2 separate regions of the Homo sapiens genome follow, and region 1 is linked to region 2. The links come from fine-mapping of genetic effects on gene expression. A gene starts in region 2. The other region holds a variant in brackets. All regions are shown on one strand. Distances are between the middles of the regions. Region 1 overlaps CCDC69 (coiled-coil domain containing 69). Region 2 holds the start of CCDC69 (coiled-coil domain containing 69).

What was found.
Region 1: its variant is fine-mapped to the expression of CCDC69 in whole blood (TOPMed, PIP above 0.99).

The regions. Positions count from the first base shown.
Region 1 is chr5:151,177,845-151,183,217 of GRCh38, reverse strand. CCDC69 (coiled-coil domain containing 69) reads left to right here. Exons shown (of 9, transcript NM_015621.3): 9 at 1-2,166. It also overlaps the pseudogene PDGFRL2P. Among named protein-coding and RNA genes, the nearest start is that of ANXA6, 23 kb to the right of the region's middle. The variant T/C (reference allele first, on the strand shown) is at 2,178.
Region 2 is chr5:151,220,916-151,226,288 of GRCh38, reverse strand. It overlaps CCDC69 (coiled-coil domain containing 69), which reads left to right and starts at 2,197. Exons shown (of 9, transcript NM_015621.3): 1 at 2,197-2,366. The coding sequence starts at 2,319. LOC105378230 (a long non-coding RNA gene) reads right to left here. Exons shown (of 4, transcript NR_160730.1): 4 at 1,939-2,813. RefSeq lists silencers at 467-761, 2,245-2,324 and enhancers at 2,445-2,644, 2,665-2,774, 4,195-4,414.

The DNA.
Region 1 (5,373 bases), 43 kb after region 2:
GGCCAAGGGAATAAGCAAGAGGAGACATTTCCTCCCTGCCCCAGCACTCTGTCCCAATCCGAGAAGTTCCGAGGCTTTCCCAGGGGCAGTCTGTGTCACGCTGGCCATTTGACATAAAGGAGACAGCCCCTGGTCCCAGCTTGTCAGCTCTGCTGCCGACTTGCTGACTTATCAACTTCCTCTAGGTGTTTCCACTCCACCCTGGCCTGCTCAGAGCCTCAGTTTACCCCTGCATTAAAATGGTGGGGGGACTGGTCAAAGGACTCTTATGTCACTGCAGTGTCCCATTCTAGGATTGTCTGAAGGCCAGAGTAGGGGTTGGGGGGAGTGTGGACAAACCCCGCAAATCAGAGTGGGGAAGGTGAGTGGTAGAGAGGGGGTCTCTGAAGGCCCTTGGGGCTGACAGGGCCAGGCAGCCTCCCCAGCTGAGGCATCATTCCTGGGCCAGAGTCGTGTCCACCAAGGGACAGTAGCCAGAGCTCCTCTTCCTTTACCAGGCAAGGTGCATCCCCTCAGCCCTCCTGGCCCTTCAGTCTTGGTGCCACCTGGGCACAGGGGCAAGCTTGGTGGTTGTGAGTCCATTCATCTATCAGAGCTGGAACCTCATCCCTGCACAGATGAGGAAACCAAGGCATGGAGCAGTTCCCAGAGTCGAATCTAGATCTCATCTGTCATCCGGGTCTTATCCTTTGCTCTGTTTTTCTCTTCAGGCTCTGGAAAATCAGATCTGTGACTTAATCTTCCTCTCCCTGGCCCTCACCCACTTAGTTTCTTTTTCATTCCTGCTCCCTGCCTTAACTCCTCCTCCCACTGCCCCTGATCCCAGGCCCAGGCTTTTACAACCTGGTGCTCAGCTTCCCCATCAGTGAAAAGGGGTGGCTAGAGTAACTAACCTCAGCAGGCCGTCCAGTCCTGATAGTCTGTGGATTTCGGATCCTTCTCAGGAAGCTTCATGTCTAATGGAGACTATAATTATAACTCCTGTTCTGCATAGAGCATTTGCATCAAAGGCTTTCCATACCCCTCCCTCCCCTGGTCCTCATAAGATCCTTGAAGCAGGTTCCTATTCCTCATTGGCAACATGGCAAACAGATCACAGGAGTCAAAGGGCCTTGCTCAAGGTCCCCAGCTTCAGCCCCAGGCCCTAAGCCAGCGTCAGAACAGTCAATCTGCATTTTTCATCAGTCATTCTATAGTGACATCATCCCAGACTGCCTTCTGTATTCCCCTGTGTACAGTCTCCTTCTGTTTCTAGGTTTAGAAGTTCAGAGGTGACTGTGTTTCTCCATTTCCACAGCCAAATGGGGGAAGAGGTGAGGCTAGGGGAGTGCTGTGCTGATTCTCCAGCCATGGTCAGACAGGTCACCCAGGAGCCTCGAGGAAAGCCCTGGAGGGAATCACATGTGTACTTTTTCATGAAGCTTTTTGCAAAGCACATCTGCGATACACTAGTTTATTGAACTAATGTCCAGGAGTAGACATGATTGGTGGCCAAGTTATTTGGGGACACCTAAACAGATCAGTGACCTGAATGACTTCTCAGAACCTTTAATATGCCAATGTGTGTGGCAAACTTACAAGAAGGGAGCTAAGTATCCAGCCTCTCCCAAACCTCTTTGAACAAAGCTTCTGTCCCTCCCACACCTCTCACCTCACAGGCACATCAGGCTGCAGAATGCGCTTTAGAAAGCATTGTTTTAGTCCAGGCACAGTGGCTCACGCCTGTAATCCCAGCACTTTGGGAGGCCGAGGTGGGTGGATCACAAGGTTGGGAGATTGAGACCATCCTGGCTAACACAGTGAAACCCTGTCTCTACTAAAAAAATACAAAAAATTAGCTTGGCGTGGTGGTGGGCGCCTGTAGTCCCAGCAGCTTGGGAGGCTGAGGCTGGAGAATGGTGTGAACCCAGGAGGCGGAGCTTGCAGTGAGCCAAGATCGCGCCACTGCACTCCAGCCCGGGTGACAGAGCAAGACTCCGTCTCAAAAAAAAGAAAAGAAAAAAGAAAGCATTGTTTTAATTGAGAGGGGCAGGGCTGGAGAAGGAGCAAGTTGTGGGGAGCCAGGCTTCCCTCACGCAGCCTGTGGTGGATGTGGGAAGGAGATCAACTTCTCCTCACTCTGGGACAGACGATGTATGGAAACTAAAAAGAACATGCGGCACCTTATTTATGTGACT[T/C]TTGTGTTTTTCTGGGAGGGTGGGGAGGTGGGTCTTCACAAGGACTTCTGCCAATGGTGGGGATCTCTGAAGAGTAAATCTGGGGCCTGGGTAGCCCACTCGTGGTTCTGGGCACTCTCCTCAAGCACCAAAGCCCCACTGGCCCTTGCTTTGCCCTAATTGTGGATGTGGGGCCTGGGGCTAGGGTGAAGCCTGGATTAAAGGATGGCCTTCAAAATAGACCAAGGCTTGGAGTGAGGCTGAGGTTGAAGTAAGTGGTGAAAACAGAGGGATGGGGTGGGAGAGACTGCGAGGATGAATGAGAAGTCACCTTCTGCACTGCAGGACCCCTCTTTGGCATCAGAAACACTGATGTTCCCACAGGTACCTACCCCTGATTCTGCCTATTGCTCCACATCCAGATGCCTGTGGCCAGGGAGGGAGCTAGGAAGGGGTAGAGGAGACACGAGGACCTCGAGTCACGTGGACATGGGTGGTGGCCAAACCAGTGCCCTGAAGGTTGGTGGCCCAGCAGGTGTAGACACCAGCATCCCTAGCCCAGGTCCCCTCCACATACAGGGTGCCCTCTGCCTCCTGCTGTACCTGGCTCTCCCCGTGTACCACATGGGCCTGTTCACTGATGTAGAGTGGTTGGCCCAACGGTAGGGGATAAAAACGGACTGTCCATCAGCTGCCCCAGGTGCATCTCTGACTCACACACCAGGGTCAGGTAAGAGGCACCATTTATCTCTTTGGGGAAAGGAGAAGTGACTTGCCCAAGGTCACACTTCAGCTTGGTGTCAGAGCACCTTAAAGGCCAGGTTCTTTGTGAAAAACGTTAAGCTTCTCAAGTCTGCAGAGAAAAGCTGGGTTTCCCTCCCCTTCTCAAAGAGTGTCCAGAGGTAACTCAGTCCAGGGAAGTACTTCCCAACGTGGGTTTTGTGGCCCTCTGCTTCTGTAGGGATGCTACCTCCTCAAAGGAGAGGAAGAGGAAGAATTTTACTACCAAAAGTGTTTTGGAAACATTAAGAAAAGCAAAGTGAAATTGGGTAGACTCCGACCACTGAGTCTGTTACATGTACCTGTGTATTTTGAATCTCCAAGACAGGTAATGGTTATAAGAGGAAGTGAGGTAGGGTGGGAGGGAACTTTCTGGTATTCCACCCTTCTAAAGAACATGTTGGGGAAATCCTGGTAAAGCCAAGCCAGTGTCTCCTGACCGTCTGTATGCTCCTTTCCCCTTCTTGGGTCTCAGTTTCCTCTTCTGACAAGTGGGAGAATGATCCTTTACCCTTTCCAATGCCTAAGGCCTCTGTGGAGTTCACCTTTATCACATCCTTGCAGCCACTGCAGGGAATGGAGAGATGAACTCGGGAAGTCGCTATGTGCCAGCTCAGGCTACACAAATGACTGGAGCGAGGTGGAGCCAGAGTGTTTTAAGTTCGGGGGGAACAGGGCACCCTCACTGGGTTCCACAGGGCACCCTCACTGGGTGCCACTGGCCTCCTTTTCAGGGCTACTGAAAGTGGTGATCTTGTCAAATCACAGCTTGTAGAGCACCTTGTTTCCCTGTCCTATACTGTTCTTAAATGGCCTCCAGCTGGGTGATAGCCCCTCATGGGTCTTTCTGAGCCACTCTTTCCCTGGGACCCATACAAGATCAGCTCACTGCTCACATGTCATTGATGGCTCCTGGGAGTCTCAAGAATGATGCTTGAGTTCCTGGGCCCACATGCTCCCCTGCATTCTCCACAGGTGGCAGTGGTGGGACAGATGAGTCTCTGGGTCTCATGTGGGTGTGACATGTTCGCCCTTATTCTTTCTCCTAGTACCACAGGTCTGGATCTTCCCCCTCCCTCTCCACAAGGCTCCTGTCAAATTCCAGCTCTTCCAGGAAGTCCTCTTACAAATGCCTCAGGTCCTCCAGGTTGGTAATATACCTTTTAGCACAGCCGTTCTCCAGATGTTTGAATTTCATGGGAGTAAGTTCTTTGAGAAGAAAGAAACACTACCTCTCCAACACCACTTGGGAAGGTCTGATCTCACAGCAGATGCCAAGGAAACAGTTGCTAACGTTCATCTCCTGTTACACATACACACCCAGCCACAGAGCCTGAGCATTTGCTCCAGCACCATCTTTGTGTGGCTGAGGCCAGTCTGGTCTCGGCTTGAATGTCACCTTGGAGATGACTCCCTAACCACTATATCTTAGGTAGACCCTATCGCATTGCCCTGTTTTATGCTCATTGTATCATTTGGCATTGTCTGCATGGTCACTTTTGTCCATATTTCACTTCTCCCTGCTTAGATGATAAACTTGCAGATAGCAGAAGCCATCTCTTTTAGACTCATCCTCATAACCTTAGTACCTAGTCCAGTGTCTGGCATGTGGCAAGTGCTCATTTTTGGTTAAATTAAGAAAGGAACAAATTATGCATTCTTACGCAGTAATCTGAGAAGTTACTATTTGAAAGATGAGAAAACTGGGGCCCAGAAAAGGGAAGTGATTTGCCCTAGGTAACTCAGAGAAGCAGCATCAGAGTTGGGACCAGAATCCAGGTTTATCAGATTCCCAGTCAAGCAGTAGCTCCATCCCACCATGATTGCTCTTGGTCCTAACTAATCCTTCACTCCCACCTCCCTGCCCCAACACTCCACCACCATGTACACACATACACACAGCCTCCATTACCCGCTGCTTACCTTCTGCCCTGAATATCCCTCGCTAAGGTCCACAGCAATCTCTGGCTCGGCCCAGAACCATGCAGGTCACACTGAAGTTTTCTCCTAGTTATACTGATGTTGCTGAAGCTTGGATGGTGGGTTTTGGGGAGGAAGATGGGTCTGCCATGGTTAAGAGGGTAGAGAAGTTAGAGACAAACATGTTGACTTGATTGTTAGAATTGTTGAATTGATGGTAGATAGAGGGATGGAGAGATGGATGAATAGAATGAATGGGCAGAATGGCTAAATGGGTAGAGGGTGAATGGTTGAGGTGGTTGAATTGATAGAGGATGTGTAGATGTATGAATGGGTAAAATGAATTAATGGAGTATGGGTAGGTGATGGAATGATTGACTGATGGAGGATTCATGCATGGAACAGTTTGACTTGATTGTGAATAGGTCAATGGATAGAAAGGCTGAGCTGGTATCAGCTGGTTCCATGGCTGATCGGCTGGCTGGACAAAACGGCTGACTACATAGAGAGTCATCAA
Region 2 (5,373 bases):
CAAAATTTTTTTTTTTTAAATTAGCTAGGCTTGGTGGCAGGCACTTGTGGTCTCAGCTACTCGGGAGGCTCAGGTGGGAGGATCACTTAAGCCTGGAAGACTGAGGCTGCAGTGAGCCATGATCACTCCACCGCCCTCCAGCCTGGGTGATATTGCAAGATCCTGTCTCAAAAAAAAAAAAACTGTTTTAAAATTTCAAAATCTCACCAATACAGTGGTAGTCACTCAATTTTTTTTTTTAATGAAAATGAGTTTGTTATGTTTTGTAACACAAAAAATTCATCTTCATCAGTATTTTTGCTGGTTATGTGGCATTCTATTTTTATGGATATAGCATAATGTATTTAACCAACCTTCTTTTCTTGGCTGTTTAGGTTGTTTTGGGTTCTTTGTTTTTAATCATGAGCACTGTTCCAATAAACATTGTTAATTTTAGTATAATTTAAGTATATCCTGTTTCTTCAGTACCTGTGGAGCACGTCCTATGGCAGGGGTTCTCAAACTTTAGCCCAGGCCAGACATGAGTGGAGTGCTTATGAAGCCATAGATTCCTAAGCCCCATCCCCAGAGTTTAGGCCAGGGGTGGGGCCCGAGAATTTGCATTTCCAACAAAGGCGGCTGGTAGTGCTGACACTGCTGATTTGGGAATCACACTTTGTGAGCCACCATTCTCTATTATACTTGCTTTTGAGAACCTAATAACACGTTTCCTTAGTTTCCTTTCTTACACACTTTTGCAATTGGTTTTGTACCCTATGGAGGGAGCAATTTTTTTGAGGTCTCATATTCTTTCCCCATTCATGACTCTAAGCCGTTTTCACAGCACACCTTTCCAAGAGTTTTGGGCCTGACTTTAATATTCCAATATACACGCAAATAGGCATACACACTGATTTTCAAAATTGGTTATCTTTTTCCTGCATTGCCATTTCAGAAACCTCAGCTAATAACAAAGAGAAGATAAACAAAAGCTCCTTTTCCTAGACACTGACATTTTATGTCCCATAGTCACCATACCTGGCCTGCCTCAAGAGGTTGTTGTGATGAATAACATCTATCCAAGATGGATAGAGTCAAATATTACAGATGCTTGTGAGGTGGAAAAAACTATCAGCCCAGAAGTGAGGAGGCATTAAAATTAAACTTAGTATTATTGGCCAGGTGTGGGATCCCAGGACTTTGGGAGGCCGAAGCGGGCGGATTACCTGAGGTTGGGAGTTTGAGATCAGCCTGGTCAAAATGGTGAAACTCTGTCTCTACTAAAAATACAAAAATTAGTTGGGTGTCGTGGTGCATGCCTGTAATCCCAGCTACTGGGGAGGCTGAGGCAGGAGAATCACTTGAACCTGGGAGGCAGAGGTTGCAGTGAGCCAAGATCGTGCCACTGCACTCTAGCCTGGGCAATAGAGCGAGACTCTGTCTCAAAAATAAATAAATACAATAAACTTAGTATTATGATTTATTTGTAGGCCATTGAGTCAAAGTTTAGGTTCTGGAGTTAGAACTGTATTCTGTGCAGTGGCTCATGCCTGTAATCCCAACGCTTTGGGAGGCCAGGGTGGGAGGATCGCTTGAGGGCGGTCGTTCAAAATCAGACTGGAAAAAAGAAAAGAATTTGGTTGGGTATGGTGGTGAGCCTCTGTAGTCCCAGCTACTCAGGAGGCTGAGCTGGGAGGCTCGCTTGAGCCCAGGAGTTTGAGGCTGCAGTGAACTATGATAGCGGCAAAAAAAAAAAAAAAAAAGGAACTGGATTCTATCTGGGCTGTGGTAACTTACTAGCCATGTGACCTTAGGCAAATCATGTTGCATCTCTGAACACCATTTTCCTCACCTGTAAAATGGAGGAAGTAATACCTTTGTTGCACTGATATGGCAAGAAATAGAAATAAAATGTATAAAACAACTGGGACAAAAACAGCCCTCAATGAATGATAGTTGTTAGTTTATCAAATAATTGCTTTAATTATTTTTTCCCCCGGCCCTTTCTTAGCTGAGGGTTCGGAAAAGCATCTGTTGCTCCTTGAGGTTTTCTTTTCTTCTGCCCTGACCAGAGCTTCCTATTATTTAGAAGGATTCTGGTCACCTGCCTCTGGTGGCGGCGCCGCTGGCCCTGCGGGCTACACTGAGGCCCCGCTCTTCGGGTATTTACGGCGGGCGGCCGCCCCAGCTCAGGCTCAAGACAGCGCTTCCAGGTTCAGTTTCAGGGTCTCGCCGGCAGCCCCAGCCGGCGGGCGCGGAGCGGGCAGCGGGGCCCGGATCGCAGGCTCCTCTGGGGGCCCCGGAGTTGGGAAGCGGCGTCCGGGAGCCCCCGGAGGAGGATGGGCTGCAGACACAGCAGGCTGAGCAGCTGCAAACCCCCGAAAAAGGTAAAGGGCGCCGGCGGAGAAGTTTGCTTTCAGAGGAGAGGGGAGTGCGGAATCGCTCCGCCGCAGAGGACTCGGCGCCCCGGGCTCTCTCTGGTCGGCCCGGGATACCGGACGGAGAACCTGGAGAGGCCAGCTCAGAGACGAGGGAGGCTCTGCTGGGAGGCGCCCTTTACCCCGGCCCGAGCCGCACCAAGCAGCCGAGTTTACAAACACGGCACCCGGGCCAGGGAAAGGCAGCTGATTCCCGCTGCCTCGGGTGGGGAGATGTCGTGTGTCTGTGGCAGGTGCCCTCTGCTTTCGGTCTGGGGCTGTTCGCTGTGTGGCCATGGACAAGTGACTTGACCTCTCTGGGCCTTCGGCTTCCTCCCCCCGGGGGTTAAAGGCTGATAATCTCAGGGCTGCTCGAAGAGTGTTCCACAGACTCGCAGTATCAGCATCCCTGGGGACCTGTCAGAAATGCAGAATCTCAGGCTCAGGCCCAGTCTTGCCAAGACAGAAGCTGCCTTTTAACAATATGCCCAGGTGATGACGCTTTAAAGTTTGAGGCGCTGGTCTTAGGGCTCTTGCAGGCCCCAGAGCTGGTGAGTGTGGGCTGCCCTTGGGGTAGCTGGGAGGGGCCAAAGAGGGAGGAGATCTACTGCGTTCTGTGGCCCTCTCCTCCCTTCCTGTCCTTCCCCCAAGGGGCCTTGGAGCTGGGTCAGGGCCCAGGGGACAATTCTCAGGTTTCTTGCAGTGAGACCAGCTGCCCCTTGGGGTCTGACGAGCCCAGAAGGTCAGAGCCTGGAGCTAGAAAGATAGCCTCCTCAGGGGACACTGTGAGGCAGAGGGGAAGAAGGACCCTCAAATTCTGGCCCCTTTTCTTACCACTACCTGCCCCCTAGCCAGGTGGGACTAGGTGATCCCTTAAACTTTATCATCATTCCCCCTTGAGACCTTGAGAGGCCCCAAACTGTGACAGTGTTTAATAGTTTTGCAATGAACTTTAGTCCTCCCTCTGCTCCTGCTTTGCTTGTGCCCTGAGTACAGGTTTTTCTGCCTAACAGTAGTCCTAGCCTGGAGGATTCTACTCCCTTCTCTGACACCTCCTGGCTTTCCTTGCTCTCCCTTTATTACCAGATTGAAATTCTCACCAACTCCTGACCTAGAAACCCTCATGTCTTTACTCACTCCAACAGGGAAACTGAGGCTTGGCTCTATCAGTAGAAGGAAGGGGCTGGCTGACAGGGATGACAAGGCGGAGAGACCTGAGCCTTGGCTGAGACTTGTAACTGAGCAAGTGGTAGGCAGACATTAGCCCTGGGTGTAAGTCCTGGTGGTGCCATAAACATACTGGGTGACCCCAAGCAAGCCCTTGTGTCTCCCTGGGTCTCAGTTTCTCCCTGTATGGGGAGTGATGAGCAGGATGATCCCTAAGCATCTGAGAGTCTGTGTTCTCTGCACCTGTGTCAACCTTGTAGCTTGCAAAGTGGACCAAGGGTGAATTCCATCTACCTAGAGGTGGAGGAAACGGGGAAGAGCCTGACCCTTCCACAAGCTGGAAGAGGAGGTCACAGTAAGCACAGGTTCTTTGGCTCCTGCTCCTTCTGAGAGACTTACCAGCTGTTCCTGCCTGTCCCTGGCACAGCCAAAGCTCTGAAGGGCAAGTAAAGCTGGCACAGCCTGTCTGAGTTGGAAAGGGCCTTTGGGTACTACCTGGGCTGACGCACCCACTATACAGATAGGAGGTTAAGGCCTAGAAAAGGGAAGGAGCATGACTGAGGTCACAGAGCAACACAGAGCAGAACCCAGGTATCTAGTCCCCTAGCTCCGTGTTCTTTGTCTCCACCTCCTCCCGCTGTGCTTCCAGTGGCTTCTTGATGACTTTAGCGTAAAATCTTTTACTCCTGTTGCCTCAGAGAACAGCCTGGCATGCCTTCTTGGCCCCAGCCATGCCAGGCCCCTGCCCCTATATGGCAAGATTTATGGGCTGTTTTTGTTTAAAGTTCTCATCCCTGTAGGCTGTGCTCCTGCCCAATTTCTCACCCAGGTGCCAACCCCTTGGAAGGCATGAGCTCCCAAGTTCATCCCCAACAGGCTACCAGCCCCCTGGGAGAGAGGGGGACTCCAGGGATGGGATGGACAAAAATGAGCTCAGGCTACAGAGGGGTTAGGTTCTGATAACCATGACTCACCCTGAGTGTTTACAGCATGCTTTCACATCCCGCCCAGTCTCACAGAAGCCCTGGAAGTTAGGCTGAGCTGCAGAATCTTTCCCACTTTACCGGGGAAACTGAGGCTCAGTGAGGAACGATGGGTCCAAAGTCACACAGCCAGTTGGTGGCAAAGCTGTGCAGTTGAGCCTGGCTTTCTGCACTCCCCATCTGGTGCTCATTGCCTTATACAGATCATGGAGCAGGTGCTTAAGTAGATATTTGAGTGAATGAGGGACAAATAAGAGCCATGCTAGGGGTTGGCCCAGGGAGCAGTAGGAGCATCACATCTAGCCTTGAGAGATGCAGGAAGGGTTTTTGAGGAAGGGTGGTTTGGAAGGTATGGCAGGAGTTACCCACTCATGGCCAAGGCCTAAGCAAAGGCTGAGCCACTGAAAGCACAGCGTGAGGGGGTTCTTTGTGGAGAATGGAGGTGGCAGGCAGCAAGGAATGAGGCAGGCACTTTTAGAAAGGATTATCCTGGCTAGGGACAGGAGCTTGACCATGAGGCCTTCTCATGTCCCTCCAGGTTCAAGGATCTGGGGGTCTGCTGAGTTCTGTGGTCTATGGTGCCTGTTGGGCTTGGCCGACTAGATGTTCTAGACCACCCTGAGAGGCCTGGCCTGGGACTAGGTCACTGCCTTATTGGGACAAGTTGAAATGCTGGGAATAAATGAATAGGGTTCCTGGCAGGCTGGGGGTGGGTGCTGAGGAACCATCTGGATCGTGTGGTCCTGCCTAAACCCTTCTTCTTGGCAAAGACCATGGCTAATGTGGTCACATCCCCCAGGAGGACTCAGGAGAAGGCCAGGCAGAGT